Regions from separate parts of the Homo sapiens genome. Here regions 1, 2, 4, 5, 6 and 7 are each reported to be linked to region 3. Evidence: microRNA targets listed by miRTarBase, many of them from high-throughput screens and not tested one by one. Region 3 holds a microRNA gene; each other region holds the end of a gene's coding sequence.
What was found. The annotated mature microRNA hsa-miR-509-5p reads UACUGCAGACAGUGGCAAUCA and lies in region 3 at 1,585-1,605, opposite strand. An mRNA with a match to its seed (bases 2 to 7 or 8) in the 3' UTR can be bound and repressed. Matches are read on the target gene's strand: a 7mer-m8 pairs with bases 2 to 8, a 7mer-A1 pairs with bases 2 to 7 and ends in A, and an 8mer does both.

Region 1 (4,066 bases), not on the chromosome of region 3:
TCAAACTCCTGACCTCAAGTGATCCACCTGCCTCGGCCTTACAAAGCGCTGGGATTATAGGCGTGAGCCACCGTGCCCGGCCTCTCTTGGTACATTTGTTGCTTGACAAACCAATAGTGATGTATTATTATTACTAACTGAAGTCAACGTAAGTTATAGTTCACTGTGCGGTGCATTCTGTGGGTTTTGACAAATGCATGCCATGTCCCACCATTACGTGTCACACAGAATATGTTCACCGCCCCGACCGCCCTGAGTCTTCTCTGTTCTCCTTCCGTGTTCATTCCTCCCCTCTTCCGGGTTCGTGTCTTTTAAGCTCATTGGGGCTGCCGTGAGGAAGCTGGGTTGTAGGGCAGAATAATGAAGGCAGGAGGGAGCTGGCTGGCCCCGAGCGTGCAGGGGAAGGAAGGGGAGGGCACGGGCCCTTCGCGCCTCTGACCCCCCTTGCCTCCACTCGCCCAGGGCTGCGCTGCTATGCCAAATTCCACCGGAACCGCAGGGTTACACGGAGGAAAGGGCGCTGTGTGGAGCCCGAGACGGCCAACGGCGACCAGGGATCCTTCATCAACGTCTAGCGGCCCCGCGGGACTGGGGACTGAGCCCAGGAGGTTTGCACAAGCCGGGCGATTTGTTTGTAACTAGCAGTGGGAGATCAAGTTGGGGAACAGATGGCTGAGGCTGCAGACTCAGGCCCAGGACACTCAACCCCAGGAGGGGAGCCGCTCGGCGAATGAGCTGGGTGGGTGCCCAGGAGCCGGCCCGCAGCACCTGCACACACGAAGTCCGGACCCACGCAGCCTCCATCCCGCGTGTCTTGCTCTCCGCGATGGCAATGCCGAGAGTGCCCTCTACTGTCCGACTCCAGCACTGCAACAGCTTCAAGTTCAAAACCAAGAGGCGTTTTTGAGAGTGGAAAAGAAATTTAAACTTCCCGAAAGAAGGTCCACCATCAGGAGATGAATATGGAACATCTCCTATGTACCAGGCACTGTGCTAAGTGCTGGAATACATTATCTCATTGAATTATCACAACGACCTTTTCAAGTAGGCATTATCACCATGCGACAGGTTGAGGACCGTGAGGCACGCTGGAGTTATTTGACTCGACTTGCCCAGGGTCCCAGGTCAGTGCTCCTCAAACCTGAACATGCTAAGAGTCACCTGGAGGTCCAGTTAAAAATGTACATCTGGCCGGGCGCGGCGGCTCACGCTTGTAATCCCAGCACTTTGGGAGGCCAAGGCGGGTGGCTCACCTGAGGTCAGGAGTTCGAGACCAGCCTGGCCAACATGGGGAAACCCCGTCTCTATTAAAAATACAAAAATTAGGCCAGGCGCGGTGGTGCACACCTGTAATCCCAGCTACTCGGAGGCTGAGGCACCAGAATCGCTTGAACTTGGGAGGCAGAGGTTGCAGTGAGCAGAGATCGTGCCACTGCACTCCAGCCTGGGGGACAAGAGTGAAACTCCATCTCAAAAAAAAAAAAAAAAAAAAGCACATCTGACTCAGTGGGCTCTGTGCTCTAACAAGCTCCCAGGGAACGCGAGGCTGCTGGCCCAGGGACCCACTGAGAGGTCCTGGGAAGTACATGGCAGAGCAAGGACATGAACCTGGGCCAAGGCTGTCCAGCTCCAAGGCCCACGTTCTTGCTGCTCCACAGCCAAGAATTTCTTCCAGATTCTCTAAGGCTTTTGGCAAGAGAGGCTCACACCCTGGTATTCCCTTCCTCTGTGGCTGGAATAACTTGACTGTTCTCTGCCTTCCCTGGATAAAGGTGTATCATGTTTAAAAACAAAACAAAATACAACTTAAGCACATACTTGCTTGCAGGAATAAGTTGGGCAGGTTGATCCCTGTGGTCTAGTAGCTGATATCCTGGGATAAGAAGTGTTTGGGGAAAAGAATCATGTTGGCCTTTATGTCCCTGTGGTCCTGATCATCCAGTCCTGGACAGGCACTTTACAGTTTTCTGGAGCACTTCCCCCCCAGGGGTTCTGATGCAAGCATGGAATCCAAAAAAACCCCACACATATTGCCCATGTTTACCCACTTTGCATACTGTTTAGTGATTTCCAGGACCACAAAACCATCCCTGGAACCCCACCCCACATTTTTGCAGCAGAGCCCACTGGGAAGTTGAGGCTCACCTGAAATTGAGGTGCTATCTGAAGCTAACTGCCCCTAACAGGCCAGACTCACAATGCCCACCCAGGACATCTGTCCCAGCAGATCTGGCTTCAGGGGTCACTTCAGGAGAACCATTTAAATCCCCCCACTTGGCATCTCACTCCTGGCCAACCCTCTGTTCCAGGGCGAACCAGGTTGCAAATGACAAAAGACTTTCCTGGCCAAATTCCTCACTGGCCTGGATCACGCCCATAAGATGCCAGAGATGTTTACTGCGTTGGAAAAATCAGTCGGGGTCAGGGGTCAGGCACCAAGGAAAGCAGGCAGATCTAGAAGAAATTAAATATGCTTGTTCTCTCCCTATCCAAGTTTGATGGGCATGGGAACCTTGTGGGGAGGGAGCAGGGAGGGCAGGGGAACTGGGAGATCAAAGCAGGCTAGCTGAAAGGCAGATATGGCTAGACACAATGGCTCATGCCTGTAATCCCAGCACTTTGGGAGGCTGAGGTGGGCGGACCACCTCAGGTCAGGAGTTTGAGACCAGCCTGGCCAACATGGCAAAACCCGGTCTCTACCAAATATACAAAAATTAAGGCTGGGCACGAGGGCTCATGTCTGACATCCCAGCACTCTGGGAGGCCGAGGTAGGCAGATCACTTGAAGTAAGGCGTTCGAGAACAGCCTGACCAACATGGTGAAACCCCATCTCTACTAAAAATACAAAAATTAGCCAGGCATGGTGGCAGGTGCCTGTAATCCCAGCTACTCAGGAGGCTCAGGCGGGAGAATCACTTGAACCCAGGAGGCGGAGGTTGCGGTGAGCCAAGATCACGCCATTGCACTCCAGCCTGGGCGACAGAGTGAGACTCCAAAAATATAAAACACTTAAAAATGTAAAAAGGCAGATCTGCCAGCAGCTTCGTACTTGAGACCAGACAACCCACACATGCTGTGTGTGCCTCACATTAAGTGGTGACTCGGGACTGTGCTGGCTCTGTGGGGCTAGAACCCTAAGGAGTACCGCCGGAAGAAAGCCCAGCATTACTATGGCTGGGGGACAGCTGTTAGATGGTCCTAGGACATCAGCCATGGAGAACACAGAGGGTCAGGACAAAGCTAAAATGCCCATAGAACTGCCACTGGTTGCCAGGGTAGTTCCATGGTTGGAAATTCAAGGCCCGTCTCTTTGCCCTAGCTATCTCTATTTGACATTTCCAAAGAGGGATGGGTGGATGGAACCTCTTAACTCCAGAGCTGGGAATCCCAAAGCCCTCTCAAGTGTCTAACCAACCTCTCTGCCAGGAAGTTCTTCCTTAGGTCTATCTTAAATTTATTTTGCTCATACAGAAGCCAGTTTCCTCTAATCCAGGGTTTAGCAAACTTTTACTGTGAGGAGCCAAATAAACATTTTAGGATTTGCAAGCCATCTGATCTCCACCAGCTACTCAGCTCTGCCGTAGCTCGAAGCAGCCACAGAGAGTGTGTAAATGAATTCATGGCTATGCTCCAGGAAAACTATTTCTGGACACACATGTGAATTCTGTATACTTTTCACATGTCACAAAATATTATTCTCTCTTTCCTTTTTTTTTTTTTTGGAGATGGAGTTTTGCTCTGCTGCCCAGGCTGGAATGCAGTGGCTCAGTCTCAGCTCACTGCAACCTCTTCATCCCAGGTTCAAGCAATTCTCCTGCCTCAGCCTCCCAAGTAGCTGTGACTACAGGCATGTGCCACCACACCTGGTTAATTTTTGTATTTTTAGTAGAGATAAGGTTTTACCATGTTGGCCAGGCTGGTCTCAAACTTCTGACCTCAGGTGATCCGCCCGCCTCAGCCTCCCAAAATGCTGGGATTACAGGTGTGAGCCACCGCACCTGGCCATAAAATATTATTAGTTTAATTTTCTAAAACCATTTAAAAGTGCAAAAACTGCTCTTTGCT
Region 2 (4,066 bases), not on the chromosome of region 3:
AAGTGGAATAAGCCAAACACAACAGGGCAAATATTGTATGATTCCATTCATACCAAGTAATTAGAACAGTCAAATTTGTACAGACAGGAAGTAGAACAGTGGTTACCAGGAGCCTGAGGAGGAGAAAATGGGGAGTTACTGTTTAAGGAGTACAGAGTTTCAGTTTGGGATGATGAAAAAGTTCTGGAGATGGATAGTGGTGATGACTGCACAAAATGTGCATCTATCTAAATGCTATTGAGCTGTATAACCAAAAAGTGTTTAAATGGTTCATTTTAAGCTATATGTATCTTACTACATTAAAAAATAATTCTAAAATAAATAAAATGACTTTATTGACCAAAACCTTGCCTTGTCCTGTGACATGAAAAAAATTTATACACGCTCATTAAGAGGAAACATTATTTAAAGCAAGGACTTCATTTTAAAGTAAAATGTGTCACAGTGCTCTTCATAAAAGCAATCCTATAATGAATCAAAAGACGTTTAAAGCCTTTTGATAATCTGACTTAATCCAAAAGTGAATTTAAATATTTGGGTGATGGGCCAGACTGAATGTCCTGCAGGCAATTATACAGACTTAACTACTGAAATCAAGACTTTGATAAATATTATCCAACAGAGTTTGGGCTGCTCTCTGTAGCTAGTACATGGTATTTAGAAAGTTCATATTGGATAAAGGACTTATATCCAGAATAAAAAGGACTACAACACAGTATCAGCAAACTCCAATTTTAAATGGACAAAAAATCTGAATAAACATTTCACTAAGATACATGAATGGCTGAAGAGCACATAAAAGATGCTTTGACATTATTCGCCATCAGGAAAATCAAAGTTAAAACCACAAAGGAATATCATTTCAAACGCTAGGATGGGCATAATTTTTAAAAAACAGACAACAATGACTGGCAAGACTGTAGAGAAATGGGAAGCCCCACACATTACTAGTCAGAATGTAAAATAATGCGGTCACTTTGGAAAACAATTTGGCAGTTTCCTAAAAAAGTTAAATGAAAATTTACCGTATGACCTAGCAACTCCCCTCAGGCATCTGCCTAAGAAAAATGAAAACATGTCCACACAAAGACTTGTACACTAACGTTCAAAACACTTGCATACCAATGTTCAAAGCAGCATTATTCCTAACAGGCAAAAACTGGAAAAACCTCAAATGTTCTTCAACTAGTGAATGCACGAAGCATCCACATAATGTAATATTATTTATGATAAAAAGGAATAAAGTACTAGTATGTTACAACATGGATGAACTTAAAACACATTAATGAAAAAAACACAGAAAGATCACATATAACATAAAATGTACAGAAAAAGACAACTCTAGAGACACAAAGTCGACTGAGTAGTGGGTGCCTGGGATTAGAGGTTGGACGGGAGATTAACTGTAAACTGGAATAACGGATCTTGCTGGGATGATGTTCTAAAAAATGGATTATGGTAATGGTTGCACAACTCAGCATATTTACTAAAACTCACTGAATTGTACACTTGAAATGGTTTTAATGATATGTAATTTGTACCTCAATAAATTCCTTTAAAAAAAAAGTTTATACTCCAGATTCCCAATGGATACTGGGATAAAACATTGTTATGAATGTTAGGGAGTCTAAGAGTAATCATCTTGGAACAAGCCTCTTCTGAAGACTTTTACGTTATTTCTTCAACTTTCTATAAATTATATTTTTCAGAAAACAAAACTTACAACAAGTTTTCTGTCTTTTCAGAAAAAAACTTAAAACCATTATGAATGATTCTCATAATAAACATTCCTTTCATGGCTAGGATGTGATTCGTTGGTCTGCTTAGCAATAACTATGCGGACCAATTTATCACACGGCAATATTTAAACTGCAGGCTTGGGGTTGGGGAGGCACCAAAAACCTTCTCCCAGAGGTAGCATTTCACACCTACATACATTAGTCACAGTAAATGTTCCTGAGTCTAAGATTAGCATTAAGGATCGCTTTACTTCCATAAGTGAAGAGTTTTCTGGTTTAGCTCTCTTTTTATAGGAGGTGCCCACAATTTCAACTTTAGGAACTTATTTCTAGACCACTGTTGAGTCCATGGGGTTCCTCCAGAACCCTATGACCTGAAGCCAAAACCTCACTCATTCAGGGCCTTAAGTTCCTTTTTCAGTTGGAAATTATTATTCAGACTCCACCAATGAAATTTATAAGGAATAATCCACCAATACCCGTATATTCCATTCCTCTGAGGTCTAATTTCACAAAAGAAAACTTAACTGAAAATTTTTTCTGTATCAATTCTACATTCATTCCCTGAACTTTACTTGCTATCAGTGCAGTCTCTTTAGATTTTAGGGTATCTATTCTCCAAATGGTAGGGGTTATAATAGAACATTCATACAGTGGGAAAGTCAGGTGACATACATGAGAGAACTAGCTAAGTCAGAAAGTTGATTCCCCATCAAAAGGTGGCAGCTGCTACCCAGGACCAGCTGAGTGCTTTACATAAATAAAAGCCCAGTGTTGTTAGCCCTTATAATTTTTTTTAAGACAAGCTTTGTTTTTAGTATGAAATGCCCTAATTTTAGATAGTGGCAACAATGTATACACACACACACACACACACACACATGCACACACACCCAAGCAAATTGTTATAACAGCTTTTAACTGTTGCCACACAGAATGTTTACACTCCAATTGCAAAAAAATGTACTTGCTACAGGCAAAATTGTTTTAAAGTAGAATTTTTGCAAACCAAAATCCATCCAGAATAGCTCTGTCTTCAGCACATTTCCTTACCCCCAGCCCCCATCTATTTTCCTAGGACTGTTACTCTCACGGCTGAGATGGCTCAGGTGCAAGCTCTCTGGCTTCTCAGTCCTGTTGGCCAATGCCCAAAAGAAAAAGAGTTCCCTTGTCCGATTAAAATACTCCCTCAAGGAAAAGTCGTTTGAACTTCACTGACCCATTCCTAGTTACAGCATTTGAGGGATTCCTGCACGAAGTTTTCAAAAAGTATACTGCATTCTCACTAAGCTAGAAGTCCAGCATCCTAGGAACCAGGCTTGATGGAGTGTACCCGTAATGTCAGCTACTCAGGAAAGTGAGATGGAAGGATCACTTGAGCCCAGGAGTTCAAGACCAGTCTGGGCAACATAGTGAGACTCCATCCCAAAAAAGAAAAATTGAAAAAAAAAAAAGAAAAAAAAAAGAAAAGAAGTCCAGCATCCTGAATAGTGGTATTGTATTTTTTACTAGAGAAACTTGAAAGTAATGACAAATAAAAAAAAATAACTTATGTCCACAGCTTCAGAGATTATCAGGATACCAATAAAAAACTAAAAAACCAAAAAAGGCAAAAATCATTAATCCCATCCCTTCATTCTGCTGGTGACGAAAATAAAATTCTGAAAGGTCAAATGACTTGTCCAAGGTGTATACAGCAAGTTGGTTGGCAAACTGGGACAGAATCCAAGTTATGTGACTGCAGTCAAGTTCTCTCCATCACACTACATGGTAGTAGAAGAAATCAGAGAGAAATCCCCTGAAGAAAAGAGCTTTTCCAATTCGTCTGGCCTCAGAATCATTTTGCATTCTTCCCTTTCCAGTGACTTTACCAACTAATTACTGTTTACCAGTCGTTGCCATCCTTGAAAAGAAGAGGGATGAATGGGCAAAAGGATATTTTTCCTAACTGCCAATTTACGAAAGCTGCAGCTACTGATCAATACTGTAAGTTTACATCCCAGGGTTTCAGTAACTGACAATTTGAATTAAATTCCCCCCACTTTAATGTAGTTCCAGGATTACTCTGCAGAGTGAAATCCCCGATGTCTAATGAGGCCTGAATTACTTTTAAATGTCTTCTCACATTCGTTACATTCATATTCTCTCCTTCCGGTATGAATTTTTAGGTGTTCTACAAGGATTGAGCTTCGACTAAAGGTTGCACCACAATAGTTACACTCATAGGGTTTCTCTCCTGTATGAATTCGGTGGTGCTCATTAAGAGATGAACTCTGACTGAAGGACTTCCCACATTCTTTACATTTATAAGGTTTTACACCAGTATG
Region 3 (4,066 bases):
CCTGTCCACTCCCACGTTGCATCTTTCACATGACAGTTTTCAGAACTGAGAAATATTAAACATTTCTGTTAGGTTCTGTTACTCACAGAAGAAATATCCTTGCATGTCTTATCCTGTTCCTTATAATAGATTAAAATGTATTTACAAAAGAACGAATATGTACTTTATTAGCACATGAAGAAAGAGGACTTTGTATATCTGAGATAGAAAATATTTTGATTTTCAGAAAAGTTAAGTGTTTAAGAAGCAGGAGAGAATTTTGGAAGGCTTAAGAAGACTTGAAAATGAGAAAGGAAGCTAACCATTAATAGATTTGGATGTTGGAGCAGGAAACAGTTTCTGCAAAATGAATAATACTCTTAAGGCGTAAAGAAACTGTATAATGGCACAATAAACCTTGATTCAATCAGGCAGCATCATAGAAATGGAAATCAATCTCAGAAAAACTCAATGGGAGGCTTGTTGCAAGGACCTTAAATTCCTAGACCATGTGTCTGATTAGGCACCTAAGAGAGTTTTTTGAGGTAGTCCAGCATGGAAGTGGAGGGTTTGTGAGGGTAAAATACCTGCACTATAGGGAAAGCATCCCTCTGCATGCAACTAAATGCCTCCAACACACACACAGTGTCATCATGTATGTTGCACGTGTCATGCAGTACTCTACCCACAGACGTACCAATCATTTTTAATTATACATGATTGCCACGTCTGCAGTAGGGTACCACACACAGCATGTCTGAGGATGGCAGCCTTGCCTTAATACCCACCCATTCACCTTTGAAACAACCATTCAATATTTACAACCTGTGAGTGACCATTGGAATTTGGACAAAGGACTTCTGTAGAATCCAATCCACTATCTTTCCTTATGTTTCCTGCTTTGAGTGCTGTCCACTCCCATGTTGCAGCTTTCACATGACAGTTTTCAGAACTGAGAAATATTAAACATTTCTGCTAGGTCCTGTTACTCACAGAAGAAATATCCTTGCATGTCTTATCCTGTTCCTTATAATAGATTAAAATATATTTACAAAAGAACGAATATGTACTTTATTAGCACATGAAGAAAGAGGACTTTGTATATCTGAGACAGAAAATATTTTGATTTTCAGAAAGTTAAGTGTTTAAGAAGCAGGAGGGAATTTTGGAAGGCTTAAGAAGACTTGAAAATTAGAAAGGAAGCTAACCGTTAATAGATTTGGATGTTGGAGAAGGAAATAGTTTCTGCAAAATGAATAATACTCTTAAGGCAGAAAGAAACTGTAAAATGGCAAGATAAACCTTGGTTCAATCAGGCAACATCATAGAAATGGAAGTCAATCTCAGAAGAACTCAATGGGAGGCTTGTTGCAAGGACCTTAAATTCCTAGATCACGTGTCTGGTGGTCAGGCACCTGAGAGAGTTTTCTGAGGTAGTCCAGCATGGAAGTGGAGGGTTTGTGAGGGTAAAATACCTGCACTGTAAGGAAAGCATCCCTCTGCATGCAACTAAATGCCTCCAACACACACACAGTGTCATCATGTATGTTGCATGTGTCATGCAGTACTCTACCCACAGACGTACCAATCATTTTTAATTATACATGATTGCCACTGTCTGCAGTAGGGTACCACACACAGCATGTCTGAGGATGGCAGCCTTGCCTTAATACCCACCCATTCACCTTTAAAACAGCCATTCAATATTTACAAGTTGTGGGTGGCCATTGGAATTTGGACAAAGGACTTCTGCAGAATCCAATCCACTATCTTTCCTTATGTTTCCTGCTTTGAGTGCTGTCCACTCCCATGTTGCAGCTTTCACGTGACAGTTTTCAGAACTGAGAAATATTAAACATTTCTGTTAGGTTCTGTTACTCACAGAAGAAATATCCTTGCATGTCTTATCCTGTTCCTTTTCACATTGCTACTTGCAAAGCATTAACTACCAGTTTGCATTCTCCATATCCATTAATTAAGTAGTAAATAATCCTCCATCTCATCAATCTCATATGATAAGGTTTGGCTCTGTGTCCCCACCTAAATTTCATCTTGTAGCTCCCATGATTCCCATATGCTGTGGGAGGGACCCAGTGGAAGATGATTGAATCATGGGGGCAGGTCTTTCCTCTGCTGTTCTCATAATAGTGACTAAGTCTCATGAGATCTGATGGTTTTAAATATGGGAGTTTTCCTGCACAAGCTCTCTATCTTTGCCTGTCGCCATCCATGTAAGATGTGACATGCTCCTCCTTGCCTTCTAACATGATTGTGAGGCTTCCCCAGCCACATGGAACTATGAATTCTCCATTAAACCTCTTTCCTTTGTAAATTGCCCAGTCTTGGGTACGTCTTTATCAGCAATGTGAAAATGGGCTAATACAGTAAATTGGTACCAGTAGAGTGGGACACTGCTGAAAAGATACCTGAAAATATGGAAGCGACTTTCGAACTGGGTAACAGGCACGGGATGAAACACTTTGGAGAGCTCAGAAGAAGACAGGAAAATGTAGGAAAGTTTGGAACTCCCTAGAGACTTGACTTGTTGAATGGCTTTGCCCAAAATGCTGATAATGATATGGACAATGAAATCCAGGTTAAGGTAGTCTCAGATGGAGATGAGGAACTTGTTAGAAACTGCAGCAAAGGTGACTCTTTATGTTTTAGCAAAGAGACTGGCAGCATCTTGCCCCTGCCCTAGAGATCTGTGGAACTTTGAACTTGAGAGAGATGATTTAGGGTACCTGGCAGAAGAAATTTCTAAGCAGCAAAGCATTCAAGAGGTAACTTGCATGCAGTTAAAGGCATTCCATTTTATAAGGGAGGCAGAGCATAAAAGATTGGAAAATGTGCAGCCTGACAATGCTATAGAAAAGAAAAACCCACTTTCTGAGGAAAATCCAAGCCAGCTGTAGAAATTTGCATAAGTAATGAAGAGCCAAATGTTAGTCCCCAAGACAATGGGGAAAGTATCTCCATGGCATGTTAGAGGTCTTCGTGGCAGCCCCTCCCATCACAGGCCTGGAGGCCTAGGGGGATAATGTTGCTTTGAGGGCCAGGCCCAGGGTTCCTGTGCCGTGTGTAGTCTAGGGACTTGGTGCCCTGTGTCCCATCCACTCCAACTGTGGCTAAAAGGGGTCAAGGTATAGCTCAGGCTGTGGCTTTGGAGGGTACAAGCCCCAAGCCTTGGCAGCTTCCATAAGCTGTTGAGCCTGTGGGTTCACAGAAGTCAAGAACTGAGGTTTCGGAACCTCCACCTAGATTTCAGAGGATGAATAGAAATGCCTGGATCTCCAGGCAGAAGTTTGCTGGAGAGGCAAGGATCTCACGGAGAACCTCTGCTAGGACAGTGCAGAAGGAAAAGCTGAGATCACAGCCCCAACACAGAGTCCCTACTGAGGCACTGCCTAGTAGAGCTGTGAGAAGGCCACCATACGCCAGACCCCAGAATGGTAGATCCACTGACAGCTTGCACTGTGTGCCTACAAAAGCCACAGACACTCAACACTGGCCCATGAAGACAGCCAAGAAGGAGGCTGTACCCTGCAAAGCCACAGGGGAAGAGTTGCCCAAGACCTTGGGAACCTACCTTTTGCATCAGCATGACCTGGATGTGAGAAATGGAGTCAAAGGAGATCACTTTGGAGCTTTAAGATTTGACTGCCCCACCAGATTTTGGACTTGCATGGGACCTGTAGCCCGTTTGTTTTGGCCAATTTCTTCCATTTGGATTGGCTGTATCTTCCCAATGCCTGTACCCCCAACTATATCTAGGAAGTAACTAACCTGCTTTTGATTTTACAGGCTCTTAGGTTGAAGGGACTTGCCTTGTCTCAGACAAGACCTTGGATTGTGGACTTTTTAGTTAATGCTGAAATGAGTTAAGACTTTGGGGGACTGTTGGGAAGGAATGATTGTGTTTTGAAATATGAGAACATGAGATTTTGGAGGGGCCTGAGTGGAATGATATGGTTTGGCTCTGTGTCCCCACCCAGATCTCATCTTGTAGCTCCCCTGATTCCCATGTGTTGTGGGAGGGACCCGGTGGAAGATTGAATCATGGGGGCGGGTCTTCCCTGTGCTGTTC
Region 4 (4,066 bases), not on the chromosome of region 3:
ACATCCTAAAGTATGTTTCCAACTTGTTTCCATTCTCCCCATCTGTTTCAGGTTCCGCAATCAGTCATAGGTTCAGTCTTTTTACATAACTCCATATTTTTTTTCAGAGGTTTTGTTCATTACTCTTCATTCTTTCTCTATTCTTCTCTGCCTGTCTTATTTCAGAAAGATAGTCTTCAAGCTCTGAGTCTCTTTCCTCCTCTTGGTCTATTCTACAATTGATACTTGTGATTGCATTGTTAAGTTCTTGTGTTGTGTTTTTCAGCTCCATCAAGTCAGTTATGTTCCTCTCTAAACTGGCTATTCTGGTCATCAGCTCCTGTATTGTTTTATCATGATTCTTAGCTTCTTTGCATTGGGTTATGCCATGCTCCTTTAGCTCAGCAAAGTTCATTACCCACTTTCTGAGGCCTACTTCTGTCAGTTCAGCCATCTCAGCCTCAGCCCAGTTCTGTACCCTTGCTAGAGAGGTGCTGTAGTCATTTGGAGAAGAGGCGCTCTGGCTTTTTGAGTTTTCAGCATTTTTTTGTGTTGACTTTTTATCATATCTGTGGGCTTACCTACCTTCAATCTTGAGGTTGCTGACCCTTGAATGGGGTTTTTGTGGGGTCTTTTTGTTGATGTTCTTGTTGTTTTCTGCCTGTTTTTAACAGTCAAGCCACTGACTGTTAGCAACTGTAGGGCTGCCACAGTTTGCTGGGGTCTGCTCGAGACCCTAGTTGCCTCCGTTTTTCCCGTACCTGGAGGTGTCACCAGTGAAAGCTGCAAAACAGCAAAGATGGCAGCCTTCTCCTTCTTTTGGAAACTCTGTCCCAGGGGGATACTGACCAGTTTCTGGCCTGAAGACTCCTGTAGGAGGTGTCTAGAGACTCCTGTTGGGAGGTCTCACTGAGTCAGGAGGAACAGGATCAGGGACCTACTTACAGAAGCAGTCCAACTGCTTTTGGTACAGCAGGTGTGCTGCGGTGGGGGAGGACCCTTCCTCACCCAGATTGCCCAGACTCTCCAAAGCCAGCAGGCTGGAACAGCTTTGTCAACCGAACCATAGAGACAGTGGTCGCCACTCCCCTGGGAGCTCCATCTGAGGTAGAGATTAGATTTCTGTCAGTATAAGCCTGGCTGGAGTGACTGAAGACCCCCCACAGGGAGACCCCACACAGTGGGGAGGAATGGATCAGGGTCCTGCTTAAAGAAGCAGTCTGGGCCAGGTGCAGTGGCTCATGCCTGTAATCCCAGCACTTTGGAAGGCTGAGGCAGGCGGATCACCTGCGGTCAGGAGTTCAAGACCAGCCTGGCCAACACGGTGAAACCCTGTCTCTATGAAAAATACAAAAATTAGCCAGGTGTGGTGGTACCTGCCTGTAATCCCAGCTACTTGGGAGGCTGAGGCAGGAGAATTGCTTGAACCCAAGAGGTGGAGGTTGCCATGAACCAAGAGCATGCCACTGCACTCCAGTCTGAGCAACAGAGTGAGACTCCATCTCAAAAAAAAAAAAAAAAAAAAAAAAAAAAAAAAGCAGCAGTCTGGGCATGATCTGGCAAAGCAGGTGTTCTGTGTTGGGCAGGGGGATCCTCTCCTTGTCCAGACAACCTGGTCTCTCCAGAGCTGGCAGGCTGGAATGCTGAGTAGACTGAACCACAGAAATGGTGGCCAGCCTTCCCCCACAGGAGCTCCCTCCTATTTCAGGCTGAAGCCTGTTGCTGTTGGTTGGTTGAAATTCCAAGCCAGTGGGTTTTGTAAGGTGCCATGGAAGTGGGGCCCACAGAATGTTGCTGCCTGGCTCCCTGGATTCAGCCCCCTTCCTAGGGGAATATAAGGATGAATCTGCCACCTTGCCAGGAATTCTGGGGCTAGAGCATGTAAACCTCCTGGGTCTCTGTGTGTGCCTGAGAGGCCGCTCTGCCAAAACTCCACACAGCTCTGTGTATCAAACCCAAGGCCCTGGTGGCATGGGCTCACAAGGAGATCTCCTGACCCGTGGGTTGCAAAGATCCTTGAGTAGCATGGTTTCCTGCGCAGGGTCGCACAATCACTCACTGCTTCCCTTGGGTGGGGGTGAGGTTTCCTTTGGCTCCATGCCACACCAAGTGGGCCATAACTCCACCCTACTTTTCTTCATTTTCTGTGGGTTGAATTGATTGCCTAGTCAGTCCCAATGAGAGAACCTAGATATTTCAATTGAAGGTGCTGAATTTATCTGTCATTTTCATTCCTCTGTATGAGTACCATGAACCATAGCTGCTTCTAATTGGCCATCTTGGTCTATCCCAGGTTTCCTCTTTTAGATACAATTTTGAAATATGTTTTCTCCTTTTGATCCTTTAATATCACATCTCTGATATTTCAAAAGATATGAAGCCCAGCCAAAGCTCTTTCTACATCTCTTACATGTACCAAACACACATACAAAGTGCCAATCAGTGTTAAGGTTGTGAAGATTCTGCAGCAAAGGTAAATGCAGCTTATATTCTAGCCGACATCAATTTTGACATGTCCATCATTAGAGATTTGTAAATGCCTGAACAAACTCCTATTCTTTCTAAGGCCTGTCTCTTGAATAACTATAATTGCCAAACTTCTGAATGAAGCCCCAAATTACAAAGGTTCTGTGCTACAGTGGTTCTAAAACCACGTGGGTATGCTGAACTATGGCTGAAACTCTGACTTTAACTTAAATATTTTCCCTCCTGAGACTGTATGAAATGTATCATCAGCATGGATTCTGTAATAAGCTATGAGATATGAACTCAAACTGAAGTGCTTACCACATGTATCAAATTTTTAATGCTTCTCCCATTGTGAACTCTCAGATGAGCTTGTAGTTGAGAAGACTATCACAGATATCACCTTACTAAGGTTTCCCTTGAAAGTGAACAGTCCAATGAAGTTGAAGACTTTGAGGCATAACTGAAGCACATGGCAATCTCCCCAAACTTCCACGGTTTCTCTGCCATATGGACCCTCTGATGCATATCAAGTCAAGTGCCTGTTGTAGTACATCCCATGCTCCTCACATTTGTATGGATTATCTCCACTGTGGACTCTTTTCTTGGTCTTTAAGATGTGATCTATGGCCGGGCGCAGTGGCTCACGCCTGTAATCCCAGCACTTTGGGAGGCCAAGGCGGGCGGATCACGAGGTCAGGAGATCGAGACCATCCTGGCTAACACGGTGAAACCCCGTCTCTACTAAAAATACAAAAAATTAGCTGGGTGTGGTGGCGGGCACCTGTAGTCCCAGCTACTCGGGAGGCTGAGGCAGGAGAATGGCGTGAACCTGGGAGGCGGAGCTTGCAGTGAGCTGAGATAGCGCCACTGCAGTCAGGCCTGGGTGAAAGAGTGAGACTCTGTCTCAAAAAAAAAAAAAAAAGATATGATCTATGTACAAAGCTCTTCCCACAGTTCTCATATTTGAATGGTTTTTCTCTGCTGTGGAGAATTGATGGGTCAGATGAGTTGAGGCCCAGCCAAAGCCCTTCCCACACTTCTCACATTTATATGGCTTTTCTCCCACATAGACTTACTGATGTAAATGAAGCTGTGAATTCTGAGTAGATCTCTTCCCACACTCCAGATTTCAATGGCTTTTCTCCACTGTGGAGTCTCTGATGTTTCAAAAGACATGAAGCCCAGCCAAAGCTCTTTCCACATTCCTTACAATTATAGGGTCGCTCTCCCCCGTGGACCCTCTGGTGCATGTCAAGATTAAATTTACTGTTGTACCCCTTCTCACACTGCTCACATTTGTATAGCTTTTCTCCAGTATGGCATGTCTGATGGGAATGAAGTTGTGAACTCTGAGTAAATCTCTTTCCACACTCTTCACATTTGAAAGGTTTTTCCCCACTGTGGAGTCTCTGATGTTTCAAAAGACAGGAGGCCCAGCCAAAGCTCTTGCCACATTCCTTACAATTATAGGGTCTCTCACCCGTGTGGACCCTCTGGTGAAACTCAAGATCCAACCTCCTTTTATAGTCCTTACCACACTCCTCACAGTTATATGGCTTTTCTCCATTGTGGGATCTCTGATGGGAAGATCGTCGTGAATTTGTATAAAATCCCTTCC
Region 5 (4,066 bases), not on the chromosome of region 3:
ATATTTGAAATAGAGACAGGGAGCTGAAGAGAAGGAATCCAGGCAAGTACGACAACCCATCTGAGACTAGTGGGCAGTTGTCCTAGGATAAGCTACCTAGAAATCAAAGCAGTGCTTCTCTTTTCCCTGGGATTCTAGTGATCAGAAATCTATACTTTGGAAATTTGATCTACGTGGTGGTGGTGCTCAATCATCTAGAGTCATTTGCTTCCTTTGTCAATCTTTGCTTGCCTGGGGCACATCAAACTTGAGGATAGTGAAAGCATGGGGGAGAATATCACAGATTTAACATTCTACTTACTTTGTCAGCTGGGACTCCAAATCCATTTCCATCAGGTCCCAGCCTCACTTTTGAGGCAGCCTGTACTCTCTCCTCCAGGGCCTGGATAGACCAAGTCTCATCACAGAGGTGGCTTCTCATCCACTCACCTGGCCTGACATGCAGCCCATTCTTAACAATGCTCTCTCCATGACCACCTCTTTTTGGAAAGTGTGCAAGTCTTGTTGCCTGGCCAGTGAGCTAACATTTTTTTCTGACACAGGGAGATTTTAGGTTTCTGATCTGCACATCTCCATATCACATCCCATGCTAAGGCGCTTACATTAGGGTCAGGCCTGGCCCTAACCCTTATACCAACATGGCTATTTTCAGTTCCAAAAAGAAAGTGTTCTATCAAGTAGCAGCCTCCATCATCTCTGATTCATACTATTGTTCTACTTTCTCTTATTTGGCCTGTAAATGCACTACAGTATCTCTTCAGGCACTGGGCCACCACCCCGCTTTCACCTCCTTTCTATTATAGGTTTTATAGACCATTTGTCCCTATGTCTTTTTAACTCATTCCTTGAGGCCTGATTCTACTTCTGGAAAAATTGGATCCATGGTCCCTACTCTAACAGAAAACCAGTCCTGACAACATGGTTTTATTAGCATCAGCTAGAAGTGGCCACGGTGGATGTTTGATCTTACTCTCCACTTACTGCAAAAAAAAAAAAGCATTGCTTAGAACCAACATGCCCAAATCAGAATCATCTTCTTTGGCAGATGTCATCTAACATTTAATTGGATTACATCTAATAGCTCTATATGGTATGACAATTCACCAGTTACCTGGAAATACATTTTCCAACAAGTTTACATTGATGTACCCACCAGTAGGCTAAATTGCTTAAATCTAAACATCCTACGAATGCTTTGTTAAGATTTTTTAATGTTCTCTGAATGCAAATACCAGCTGTTAAGATTTTCCTGGCTCAAATTATTAAGGCCAGAGGCTGTCTACCAGACTACGTATAGTAAGATGCAAGCAACTGAATTCTGAAGAAAATATTAGCTCAACCTACATCCCTGGGGAGTTGGGATGGCCTTCTATAATTAAGACGTATCTGGATTATTTAACTAGAAAAGAGTGTCAATCCTCTCTTCTGCTTAGCTGAATGTGAGGATGGATGGATCTGCCCTAATTGGACAACAGAGAGTATTTGCACTCTCATTTTTGTCTGAGAATGTATCCTTAGCTTCTATGCTTACAAATGGTTATCAAAAGTCAATTAGAGAAGTCAATATTCATAAATAATGGCTTCAAAGACTTGTTGTTCACCCTTCTAACATTCTAAACCTAATTCTTAGCAAATGAGAAGCTTCAACTGCTGCCAACCAAGACAAATTCTACCAAGTTGTATTTTTATGTATTTTATGAATCTACATTTATGGATATAATACAAAATGGCTTAATAAGAATAATACCAGAAAACTGTTATAAGAGCTTACTATGTGCCAGGCACTGTAGTAAGTGCTTTGCTTGCATGATTTTCTTTGATTCTTATAGCAACCCTTTGAGCTAATTACTATTATTTCTCCTGCTTTGTAGGTAAGAAAACTGAGGCGTAAAGAGGTTATATCACCTAAGGTCACATAGCTAGTAAGTTGTAAAGCCAGGATTTGGACCTAGGCAGTCTGATTCCAGAACCTCTGTGCTTAACTAGTTTACCATATGCCTTCCCTAGGTAACCATTTGATATGCAGGAAGCCCCATAATTCATTCCTGGCTATGGTCTTTATGGAGTAACTTCTACTGGTCACTTAGTACTGAAAGACAGTGTTGAAGGACACTTCTGGAGGAAGCCAGCTGCTGTCATCTTTGAGGGGTCTGTTTCTACAAAGAACTTGAACCCGCTGGGGCAAGTGCATTCCAGTCACTGAACCTGGCAGCAGATCCATGGATCTCAATGATCTTTAGTTTTTGCTCCTCAAATTGGAATAATGATAGAATGAGAGTACTAAAACCCCCACAACTGGCCCTACATGAATGGCCAGCTATCTCAAAAGAGGGACTGTGCTTGTCAGAGGGAATCCCTTCAGGGGACTCTTGGACAGGTTAAAGTGCCATGGATATGTTGTGTAATGGGAAGTGTAAACTTACAGGGACTTGATTTCAAAGGTCATTAGAGAAGTTAGTCACAACTTCTAAAGCAACTATCAGAAAACAGCTTGGACTCACTCAAGTAAACAGGGGCTTTATTGGCTTATAGACCTGGGCAGTCCAGGTGTAGATCTGGTTCCAGACAAGGCTGATTCAGAGACTCCACGTGGTCAAGGCTCTGTTGTTTGTCAATCCCTTGGCTCCTCCACTTCCAGTTTGGCTTCTGTCCTCACAGTCTCTCTCCATGTGGCAAACAAGATGGCTACTGGTGGTCCCAGGTTCACGTCCTCTCAGCTTGGAAATCCAGCAGCAAGAAGATGTCTCACTCCCAAAGTCCATAACTCAATCCTTGGGAAGACTGTAGTTGGTCCTGCTAGGAACACGTAACTATCCAACTATCCTCCAGATAGGGAGCTGGGGAGATGGGAGATGGGCTCCTCTGACAGGACACCCTGTGGTTCACGTCCACTCTTGTGGCCTGGGTATATTGGGAATGCGGGGATGAAGAAAGAATTCACAGCCCCACAAGGTTCGTGTGGAAAAGGGGAGGAGTTTCCCAGAAGAGCCATAAAATTAAGAAAGCACTGCAAGCAAACAAAAACCAGTCATTTAAGTTCTTGGCAGTAACAACATATTTATACCTAGTGCTTCATTTTGCTCTGGAAAAAAAGCAGATCTGCTCTGCTGGGGCAATTCTAATGGCCTTTCCAGTGTGCTTTGAGAAAGTGGAGGGACTGCGTGGTATTGCTGGGCTTCCCATTTCAGGAGACCTGGGCCCAGCAGTTCTATGACATGATGATGAGCACTCTGGACCCAAACCAGACACCTGGCCAGTGTCCTGATTCTGAGACTGAAGAGCCCTGTGAATGTGGGCAATGCCCTCCTGCTTTCTGGGGGTCATGGGTGGGGAATTAAATAGAAGATCAGCGCTTCCTTCTCAGCTCTTGCCTTATGAGTTTTTTATAACATCATTTCTCCTTTCTGGGTGTTAGTTTTCTCATCTATGTGAGGTAAGAAATTATCTCCAAGATCTGTCCAACTTGAAATAAAAATGAAAACAAAACACCTCAAATTCTGATTCTTTTGGACCGTTTCCCAGCATAGTTAACGAGCTCCCAGACCAGACACTTTACCTCCATTCTCAGGCGCTGAGGAGGGTGGAGCAGGCCTGCAATGCATATAGGGGAACAAAGGCCCAGAGACAGAGACGTGGGAACCATGCAGTGTAAAAAAGCGGGAGGTACCAGAGACAGAGACGTGGGGCCCATGCGGTGTAAAAAACCGGGAGGTACCTTCAGGACCCACAGCTGGGCCTCAGGGCCACAGCTGGGGTTTGGTGAACACTTCGCCTTGCACTTCATACTTCAGTGCCCGCCAGTTCAGGACATTAGGACTGAAGGGCCCGCCAAGATAGATGGTGTTAATCTCATCTGGTGACAGCACAAAGTCCCACATGTTCACATTTCCAATGTCTCCCACCAGGGACTGGCTTCCTTCAAAGTTCCCACCGAAGGAATCCTGCTCCTGCCCCAAGATGATGCTTGCTTCTGCCCCCACAGTGTATCCCTTCTTCAGACTCTTCCTCACCCTGGGCTTCCCATCTACCCAGAACTCCACGATCCCTGAGGCGGACTCCCAGCTTG
Region 6 (4,066 bases), not on the chromosome of region 3:
GAACTACTGACCTCAGGTGATCCATCCACCTTGGCCTCCCAAAGTGCTGGGATTACAGGCATGAGCCACCACACCCAGCCCATATTGTCTTTCTTGAGTAGCTTTGTTGTTTGCTTGACTCAATTGTCCAATTGGCAGCTTATGATCATGTCAGTTATTTCTGTACATTGATTCCAAAAAAAAAAAAGCTGAAAACATTCACCTGGATCATTTAAAATATTTCTGGTGTGGCAATGATGGGCATGATTTATGAGTTGGTCAGTATGCTTCTAAAATAAATGTCCAACCAAGATATTTTTGACAAAAATGCAGGCAAGCCTTTTCAGACATAAGGAGGAGAGTGGGGGATGGTTTGGGGAAGGAGGCATCTTTCACTAGAAGCAGCCACATGGCCTAGGTAAGAGAAAGATTTCTGGTTTGGATTTGCAATCTTAATATTTTGCAATAAGAACCACCTGCACCGGCTCCATGCCTCCCCACTCTCTTTCCCTTCCTATCTTTTCAAGCTCTTTCAGACTTCTTGGACACTTCATTCTCTCCTACCTACTTCAAATCCCAGTTGAAGCTCCACCTCCGCTAGAGCTTTCCCTGACAGCAGCCCTGTGCTAATGCCCTTCACAGCACTGTCTTTACTGCACAATCGTCATGGCCAATGCTAAGACAGTTTTACAAAGATCACTTTTTTTCTGAATAGAAAGAAAATTGTGTGTGGGGTTGGGGTGGGCTGGGGGAACTTACCAGGACCAGGAGGCAGTAACGAATCCTGGAGGAAGTGTGTCCCGTTAAGATGCTACCACAACAGTCCAAGGAAAACACGAGGGCCTAAGCGAGGCAGGGATGCCAGTGCGGGGGAGGGGGACGCAGGATGTTGTGGGGGGCGTGGGGTGTGGGGGAGGGGGACGCGGGGTGTGGGGGACGGGGATGCAGGGTGTTGGGGAGGGGGACCTGGGGTGTGGGGGGGGCCGTGGGGCGTGGGGGAGGGGGACGTAGGGTGTGGGGGAGGGGGACGCGGGGTGTAGGGGAGGGGAATGTGAGGAGTGGGGGGGACGCAGGGTGTGGGGGAGGGGAATGCGAGGTTGGGGATGTGGGGTGTCGGGGAGGGGGATGACGGTGTGGGGGAGGGTGACAGCAGGTGTGGGGGAGGGGGACGCGGGGTGTGGGGGAGGGGAATGCGAGGAGTAGGGGGACGCAGGGTGTGGGGGAGGGGAATGCGAGGTTGGTGGGGATGTGGGGTGTGGGGGAGGGGGATGATGGTGTGGGGGAGGGTGACAGCAGGTGTGGGGGAGGGGAATGCTAGGTGTGTGGGGGATGCAGGGTGTGGGGGAGGGGAATGCGAGGAGTGGGCTCAGGCTTCTAGTTGTATAACTTGGAGAAAAGCACCAGCTTTTTTTAAAATTTATTTTTATTTTTTTTTTTGAGACTGAGTCTTGTTCTATTGCCCAGGCTGGAGTGCAGTGGTGTGATCTCGGGTCACTGCAATCTCCCCCTCTCAGGTTCAAGTGATTCTCCTGCCTCAGCCTCACAAGTAGCTGGGATTGCAGGCACCCGCCACCATGTCCAGCTAATTTTTGTATTTTCAGTAGAGATGGGGTTTCACCAGATTGGCCAGGCTGGTCTCAAACTCCTGACCTCAAATGATCCACCTGCCTCAGCCTCCCAAAGTGCTGGGAGTATAGGCGTGAGCCACCGTGCCCGGCCACCAGCTTTAATCAAAATAAGGCACTCTTTTTGTTTCTTCTGAAGTTTCCCATAGCATTGGGTGATGTCAGCAGCACTGGGCAGTGTGGACTTAAGACTCACGGGCAGATGACCTTCCACATGGTCAGGGCAAACACATGTACGTGGCACACCTGGGGTGCAGGTTCCAAGCACTTTACATACATTAACAACTCACATAATTCTCTTCCCATGTGTGGAAGGAGGAGGTTCATTCATACCACCAGCATCCCCGCATCCCAGAGGAGGAACTGAGGGGTCATGTCTAAAGTCACACACCACTCAGGGACACAGCCAGGGTTCCAATTCTTTCTGCCCAGAGCCCTCACCTTTCCCTCCCTTACAGTGGACACTTGTACAATTAAGCAATGATCAAAGTCTGCAATTAGCTGGAAAAAAAAAAGACTAATATAGTTTCAATAGCATATTTTATTTTAATCTAAGAACAATGATTAAATTCAAAGGTCAGAAATATAAAAGATTATCCAAAAAGTTTAGGATCATAACTGTTTCTTAAACAACATTGGCATGTACTTGAGCTGGTTCTGTGGCTCCAAAGGCTTGATTTTTACCTTGCACAGTTTAAATAAGCAAGAAGCCTTACGCGATGCTCCACAAGCATCACAACATCACAAAATCATTCTACAAGGCATGTCTCAGGGGATTTGGGGCCATGAAGATCTTTTTCCAACCAAAAGTCTGAGCCGAGATAGAATCACAGCTTGAAGTTCCTGCTCTCAGACTGTCCTCCAAATGGTTCCTTAAGACACTGGGTGCCCTGAGCTCTGGGGCCCAGGCCTGAGGGTGGCAGCTGGTTATGCACGCAGACCAGTTCTGTTGGTCACTGTGTGGGCATTCCACTCCTATCCTTCTCTGCCAGTGCCACTCGGATGAATTTCCCATTGGCAAGTTCTCGTACCCTTGATGCATTCAGAAAAGCAGAAAGGAACCGTGGGGACCCTCAGGCACCTCCCCCCGGCTGCCAACACCAGCCCCGGGGGCACCACGTATCCGGCTGTACCTTCAGTAAGGAGACTGCTCATAATTGGTTCAGGTGAAGATTTTACCTTCCGGTAGCCCTGGGGTGGACCAGGTAGGAGGATCAGGAGAATAATGTCCACGTGTAGGAGGAAAACCAGGCAGACAAGCCTGTTAGCCAGCTCGGTCACACCGCGACTGGATTTACATTTTGGAAGGATGGGCCCCTCCCAGGCACTGTGACTGGATTTACTGCCTCCTAGGCAGCCTCCCACCATCCGAACGACTCTCTGGGACTCATTCAAGCCCCAGGGCAAAACTCAAAACAGAAGCTTAAAATGGAAAAGCAAAGATCCTTTGAGCCAAAGTATCACACCAACGACAGTTTGAAAATATTATTTCCTCCAGGGGAACTACCTGCACTTAACTGGATAGCTTTAGTGGTTGCGTGATTCATTGTATGAGCAAGATCTCTGGAAAGCAAAACAAGACAAACTAACAGAAAATCCCAAGAAACAAACCAGCCCATGCATGTTAACTGCCTGTAGGGTCGGCCGTACATCACAAACTTCCATGGACATGTGGAGCTTCCAACATGATTCCACAATGCTGTAAGCACAGGCATCTGGAAGTGACTGCAGGGGTTAGAGAAAGCCATACGATTGCAGCCGGAGTGCATAGAGCTCTACTGTTAACATGTGGAAGGCGAAGAAATTAAGCCTAAATGCATTCAAATACTTCTCCACCACATACAGATTTCCAAGGTCAAAAGAGGACACATACATTGTATGTGATTAATTTTCTGAAGCCAGCTCTCCATTTTCACAGATTAAAACAGTCTGTTTAAATAGCTCATTTCTACAAAGTGAATTTACATTTAAAGTACAAAGTGCAAATACTATGTGTTTCTGTTTTTGTTTTCTTAATTGCTCTTTGGTGAGGGAAATTTCCCATGTGTCTAGGAACTGCCTTCGGGGTATGAGCCATTTATCCTTGTTTCCTTGGCTGAAAAGGAAAAAACAAAAAAGAGACATTATATTCAGAGGTGTGTGTCGCTCATCTGTGAAGACTAAGGCTTGGCTTCTGGGAATGAACTGAACCAAAGAGGGCTGGGCAGGTCATGTGAGGTGTAAGTATGAGTAAGAAACAATGAAGACATTTTGGACACTGGTAACTTCTTAACAGTTTCCTTCCTTGACATGATAGAAAAATTGGGAAAAATATATCGTTTCAAAAAAGTAACATCCACTGTAAATATTCTAAGTACTAAATACATTAAATGTTTTCCAGAATGTCTTATCACCTTGATTATACAAAAATAATTTTAATAATATAACTTATGCTTCAAATTTGATAAAGGCATAGTTGATTC
Region 7 (4,066 bases), not on the chromosome of region 3:
CTGTCCCCTCATCCTGGGAGCTCCCAATGCCCATCTGCAAGGCTGTGGACCCCTCAGGAGTGGCCTGGAGCCTGGCTCCCATTGCCACATGGTGGCTGTGTGTGTGGAGAGGGTTGATAGTGGAGTGGTCAGGCCCAGGCTGCCCTGGGGGATGAAGTGCCATCCTCTGGGTGCCCTGGAGAAAGAAGAGAACTCAGTGAGCCCTGTCTGGTACTTTCCTGGAGGAGGGCTCCCATGCTGGCCCTCCACCCCTCTGTCCCCTGTCACCCTGAGGCCTCTGGATTTCCTCTCTGCCCTTCCCAACCTGCCAACTTCACGGGTTTCTGGCTGGGTTCTGGGGATGGCCCCTAGGGGAGACGGGCCAGGCACAAGCGGGGCTGTGTCAAGGTGGGTATGCAGGGGTAGCACAAGTGTGCAGAGCCTGGGGAGGCATGGGCAAAGCATGGCAGGCGGCGGGGCAGGGGATCTTGGAAGGTCACGGGCTGGGGAGCAGTGTGGGCAGCGGCCCAGAGGTGGGAAGGCCGTAGCTTAGCTGGGTGTCCCCTTTCTGTCCTCTGCAGGTGGAGCCCCCTGAGCTGCCCGCTGATCTGCAGCACTGGATCTCCTACAACGAGGCCAGCAGCCAGCTGCTCCGCATGGAGAGTGGGCTCAGTGATGTCACCAAGGACCAGTGACCGCCACCTTCACACCGTCTGCCCTGGCCACCATCCTGGGCCTGGGGGCTGCCCACAGATGGGCAGTCTCAGCCATACTCTGTTCCAGCTGGAGTAGCCTCCTGACCAGCCTGGCCCACCCTGCTCCACCCACTGGGCCCCCCCAGTTATTGATACCCCTCTGTGCTGGGCTCCACGCTAGGCAGAAGGAGGAGTGGCATTGGCATCCTGACCCAGCTCTGCCCTCAAGGTGGGGATGGATGGGCAAAGGAGAGTCCTGCCTGGCCCTACGATGAGGCCACTCATGTGGGCCTAGGTAGGGGAGGATGGTGCCTGGAGCAGAGGGACCCACAAGTGCCTCCCGAGCCTAGATCCTGGCTCGGACCACTGCAAGGGCCGAGGCAGGGCCAGACCAGAGCATCCTGGGTACAGGCCTGGGCTCTCCAGGGCCTGGGCCTGATTCAGGTGCAGTGGGCACTCCTGAAGGGTCAGAGCGGCATCTGCCAGGCAGCCCCTCTGGCTTCCGCTGAGGTGGTTGCAGGCCTGGGGCAGAGCCTGGGTGGTCAGAGGCCGGGGCTAGAGGCAGATGGAAGGGAGGCATTTGCTGACAGAGGACGGGGCACCCGGGCTCCCCACTGCAGTCGGCCTTGCCTCCTCCTCCTCCTCTACCTCCAGTCAGGCTGGACGGGAGGGTAGCCTTGTGGCTGAGAGGGGTCAGACTAGGTGGCACAGGGGCTCCTGGAAAGACAGCAGGCTTCCTGCTGGGCGTTCCCTTGTTGGAGGGAATAGAGTGGGGGTGGGACTCTGCAGGGGTGTCCTTGTCCACTCGCACCCCTCGCCGCCCACCAGGGCCATGCTCTGTGACTTGGGCTGATCCCCACCCTTTCTGGGCCTACAGCACCACAGGCCGCTGTACCCCCTTAGAGCTGCCCCTCTCTGGCCTGGCCGGCAGGCGTCTTCTTAACTCCTCTGTCCTCTATATTCAGCATGTTCCTTGTCAGCTGCTGGGCCGGCCCTGCCTTGCGCTAGCAGAGCCTCTCCTGGCAGCTTCTCAGGTCTCCCTAATGGAGACACCAGGCTACTAGGACACTGGCTGGGGCCACCCCCTCCTGCCTAATGCCTCACCTTACAGCTGGGGAAACTGAGGCCTGGAATGGCCCAGAGTCACCAAGGCAAAGTTGGGGCTGGTCCCAGCCTGAGGCTCCAGCTGATGCCCTCAGCTCCCAGAGAGGGGGTGCCCCATCTAGCTGGGTGCAGGGGTCACTGCTTGTCAGCTCAGGGCCCTGTGCCCGCTTGCCTGTTCCCCTACATCTGTGCCTGCACATCCAGAACTGCCTCCTTGCCGCTGCCTCCAGGAAGCCCACCTTGAGCCAGAGTCAAGGGCTGCAGCACTGCCCGATAGAACACGCCCGCCCTCACTGCTGTTCTTGCCTTACAGCCACCATGGGAAAGCTGCAACCTTTCTGTTTTATTTAAAGAAAGCCCAACATTAAAGGGTTTTCATTGCAAGCGTGCTGGGGAGGGCCTTGTTTCTGAGCTACCACCACCACCATCCATGCAGGGGCGGAGGTGGGACCAGGGAAGCTGGGGCACATTCCCAAGATGGGTGTCTGGCATGGGGGGCTATCCAGGTTTGTTGGGCTCCCGTGAACTTAGGGATCAGGCTGGCAGGGCAGGGCTTGTCCTCATCCCATGGGGCATAGGACTGAGGCCAAGAAGGTGCTGTCCAAAGCCCCCTGGGGAGCCAGCCCTTCCTGCTCCGGCCCTCCTGGTTCCCAGCTCTCGAGGCTTGCAGCCCCATCTACAGATGCCAGCGCCAGGTTCCCGGTTTCCCTCCTTCAGGGATTACCCTGGCGGTCATGCCTCAGACTCTGGGTCTGGCCCTCCAGGCTCCCAGAGCCTCGGGCAGGGTGCTGGTAGCCATTGGGGGCAGAGGTCAATGGACTGGTGGGTGGACAGGAGGCAGAGAGAGCATGGGGGCTGTTCTGCAGGCCCTTCAAAAGGGGTGGGGAGAAGTGGGACCCTCCGGGACATAAAGTTGAGTGAGGCGGGGTGTGGCCACGTCCATGCTGTGACCACCTTCCTGGGAGGGTCCAGAAGGCTCTGAGGGCCAGGGAAGGAGTGGGCAGTTGGAAACAGCTATGAAACCGGCATTTAGTGATGGGGCAGTAGGGCTGGGGAGGGGAAGCAAACTTGCTCAGCAAATCTGGGGTCTGTAGCCAGACTGGTTGGCCAGAAGCCTCTGTGCTTTCTCTGGGGTCCTTGGGGGAGGTGGCTCGTGGGGTCGCCACAGGTGTGTGAGCTGAGTGTTGCCAGACAAGCTTCCCAGTGGGGCTGCAGATGAAGCTGTAGGGATGCCGTCCAGCTGATGGTCCTGACCATCTGCCTGAGCCCTGGAGCAGGGCGGGGGCCACAGGACAGGGTGCCTGGGCCTTGGGAGGGCACCATGTGATGATGCCACTGCGGTCCCTGGCTCAGCAGCTACCTCTGGGTCGTGGAAGGCACATTGGCCTGGATAGGGAGTAGGGCTCAGTGACTGGACTAGGAATGAGTGTATCCAGTGCGCATATGGATGTGCGTGCCTGTGTGCATTTGTGTGTGTGTGTGTGTGTGTGCGCACGTGCACGCAGGCAACGGGCAAGCTTCAAGGTGGTTGAATGGGCAGCACCCGCAAGCCTCTGGGGCTTCTCTCTCCATGCAGAAGCTGAACACCCTGGGCTGTCATAGGCTGGCTCAGAGGAAGGTTTGAGCCAGCAGGGCCCTCTCTTGGTCTTGTTTTTGGAGGACGGGCTGACGACAGGACTGGCCCGGGTCAGGGAATGGGTGGCTGGGATTGGAAGTGAACCAGTGCCTTGTCCTGGCGGAGCCACTGGAGCCCACTCTGCTCCTGTGAGCCTGCCACTCGGAGAAGTTAGAGGGCAGCAACTGCTTCGGCCCGCGTCCTTCCCCCAAGGCCAACAGCTGCAGAATTTCTGCCCCAGCCGCCCCCACCCCCGGAGGTGTCTGCACAGTGTCCAGGTGTCGGGCCCAGGAAGCCCTTGGTGGATGCTGGTGAAGAAGGGACAGGTACAGGGTATGGGAGTGTGTCCGGAGGTCCTGGGGTGGTGGCTGTGCATGGGTCCGTCGTCCTGGGGGAGGAGGCACTGTGCCCTCTGATGGCCAGGTGGACAGAGTCACGACTGCTTTGGTGGGTGTCCCCGGGGCTCACCCTAGGTCAGTTGCCTGCTCAGTCTCAGCATCCAGCCACCGCCTCTGGGCTCAGTCAGCTGACTGGCCACTGTTGTGTCCCCTCAGGGCCCAGGGACACAGATCCCCACATCTGAGGCCTTGCTGAGTGGAGTTCTACTGTGCCTGGTGTCCGGAATTCTGGGACAGCAGGACCATCGCCCACCTCATGGATAGGGAAACAGACT

Region 1: miRTarBase lists DRAXIN as a target of hsa-miR-509-5p. The part of its 3' UTR that is shown has no 7-base or 8-base seed match.
Region 2: the mRNA of ZNF483 is a reported target of hsa-miR-509-5p. Seed matches in the 3' UTR shown: 7mer-m8 at 3,477-3,483, 7mer-A1 at 3,012-3,018 and 7mer-m8 at 1,869-1,875.
Region 4: miRTarBase lists ZNF221 as a target of hsa-miR-509-5p. Seed matches in the 3' UTR shown: 7mer-m8 at 3,315-3,321.
Region 5: miRTarBase lists CRP as a target of hsa-miR-509-5p. The part of its 3' UTR that is shown has no 7-base or 8-base seed match.
Region 6: the mRNA of SMOC2 is a reported target of hsa-miR-509-5p. Seed matches in the 3' UTR shown: 7mer-m8 at 3,329-3,335.
Region 7: the mRNA of THEM6 is a reported target of hsa-miR-509-5p. Seed matches in the 3' UTR shown: 7mer-m8 at 1,289-1,295.

The regions. Positions count from the first base shown.
Region 1 is chr1:11,719,122-11,723,187 of GRCh38, forward strand. DRAXIN (dorsal inhibitory axon guidance protein) reads left to right here. Exons shown (of 7, transcript NM_198545.4): 7 at 463-4,066. The coding sequence ends at 575. Among named protein-coding and RNA genes, the nearest start is that of AGTRAP, 15 kb to the right of the region's middle. RefSeq lists an enhancer at 623-692.
Region 2 is chr9:111,542,904-111,546,969 of GRCh38, reverse strand. ZNF483 (zinc finger protein 483) reads right to left here. Exons shown (of 6, transcript NM_133464.5): 6 at 1-4,066. The coding sequence ends at 3,800. Among named protein-coding and RNA genes, the nearest start is that of ZNF483, 20 kb to the right of the region's middle. RefSeq lists enhancers at 1,539-1,708, 1,772-1,941.
Region 3 is chrX:147,259,002-147,263,067 of GRCh38, forward strand. It overlaps MIR509-1 (microRNA 509-1), which reads right to left and starts at 1,624; the gene lies at 1,531-1,624. MIR509-3 (microRNA 509-3) reads right to left here and starts at 725; the gene lies at 651-725. All of the region lies in intron 2 of LOC105373347 (periphilin-1), which reads left to right.
Region 4 is chr19:43,966,785-43,970,850 of GRCh38, reverse strand. ZNF221 (zinc finger protein 221) reads right to left here. Exons shown (of 5, transcript NM_001297588.2): 5 at 3,142-4,066. The coding sequence ends at 3,495. Among named protein-coding and RNA genes, the nearest start is that of ZNF155, 15 kb to the left of the region's middle.
Region 5 is chr1:159,709,788-159,713,853 of GRCh38, forward strand. It overlaps CRP (C-reactive protein), which reads right to left. Exons shown (of 2, transcript NM_000567.3): 2 at 2,502-4,066. The coding sequence ends at 3,738. Among named protein-coding and RNA genes, the nearest start is that of CRP, 2.8 kb to the right of the region's middle.
Region 6 is chr6:168,666,054-168,670,119 of GRCh38, reverse strand. It overlaps SMOC2 (SPARC related modular calcium binding 2), which reads right to left. Exons shown (of 13, transcript NM_001166412.2): 13 at 2,128-3,699. The coding sequence ends at 3,682. Among named protein-coding and RNA genes, the nearest start is that of SMOC2, 230 kb to the right of the region's middle. RefSeq lists enhancers at 2,218-2,717, 2,718-3,219.
Region 7 is chr8:142,734,766-142,738,831 of GRCh38, forward strand. It overlaps THEM6 (thioesterase superfamily member 6), which reads left to right. Exons shown (of 2, transcript NM_016647.3): 2 at 561-2,162. The coding sequence ends at 674. Among named protein-coding and RNA genes, the nearest start is that of SLURP1, 5.6 kb to the right of the region's middle. RefSeq lists an enhancer at 3,624-4,066.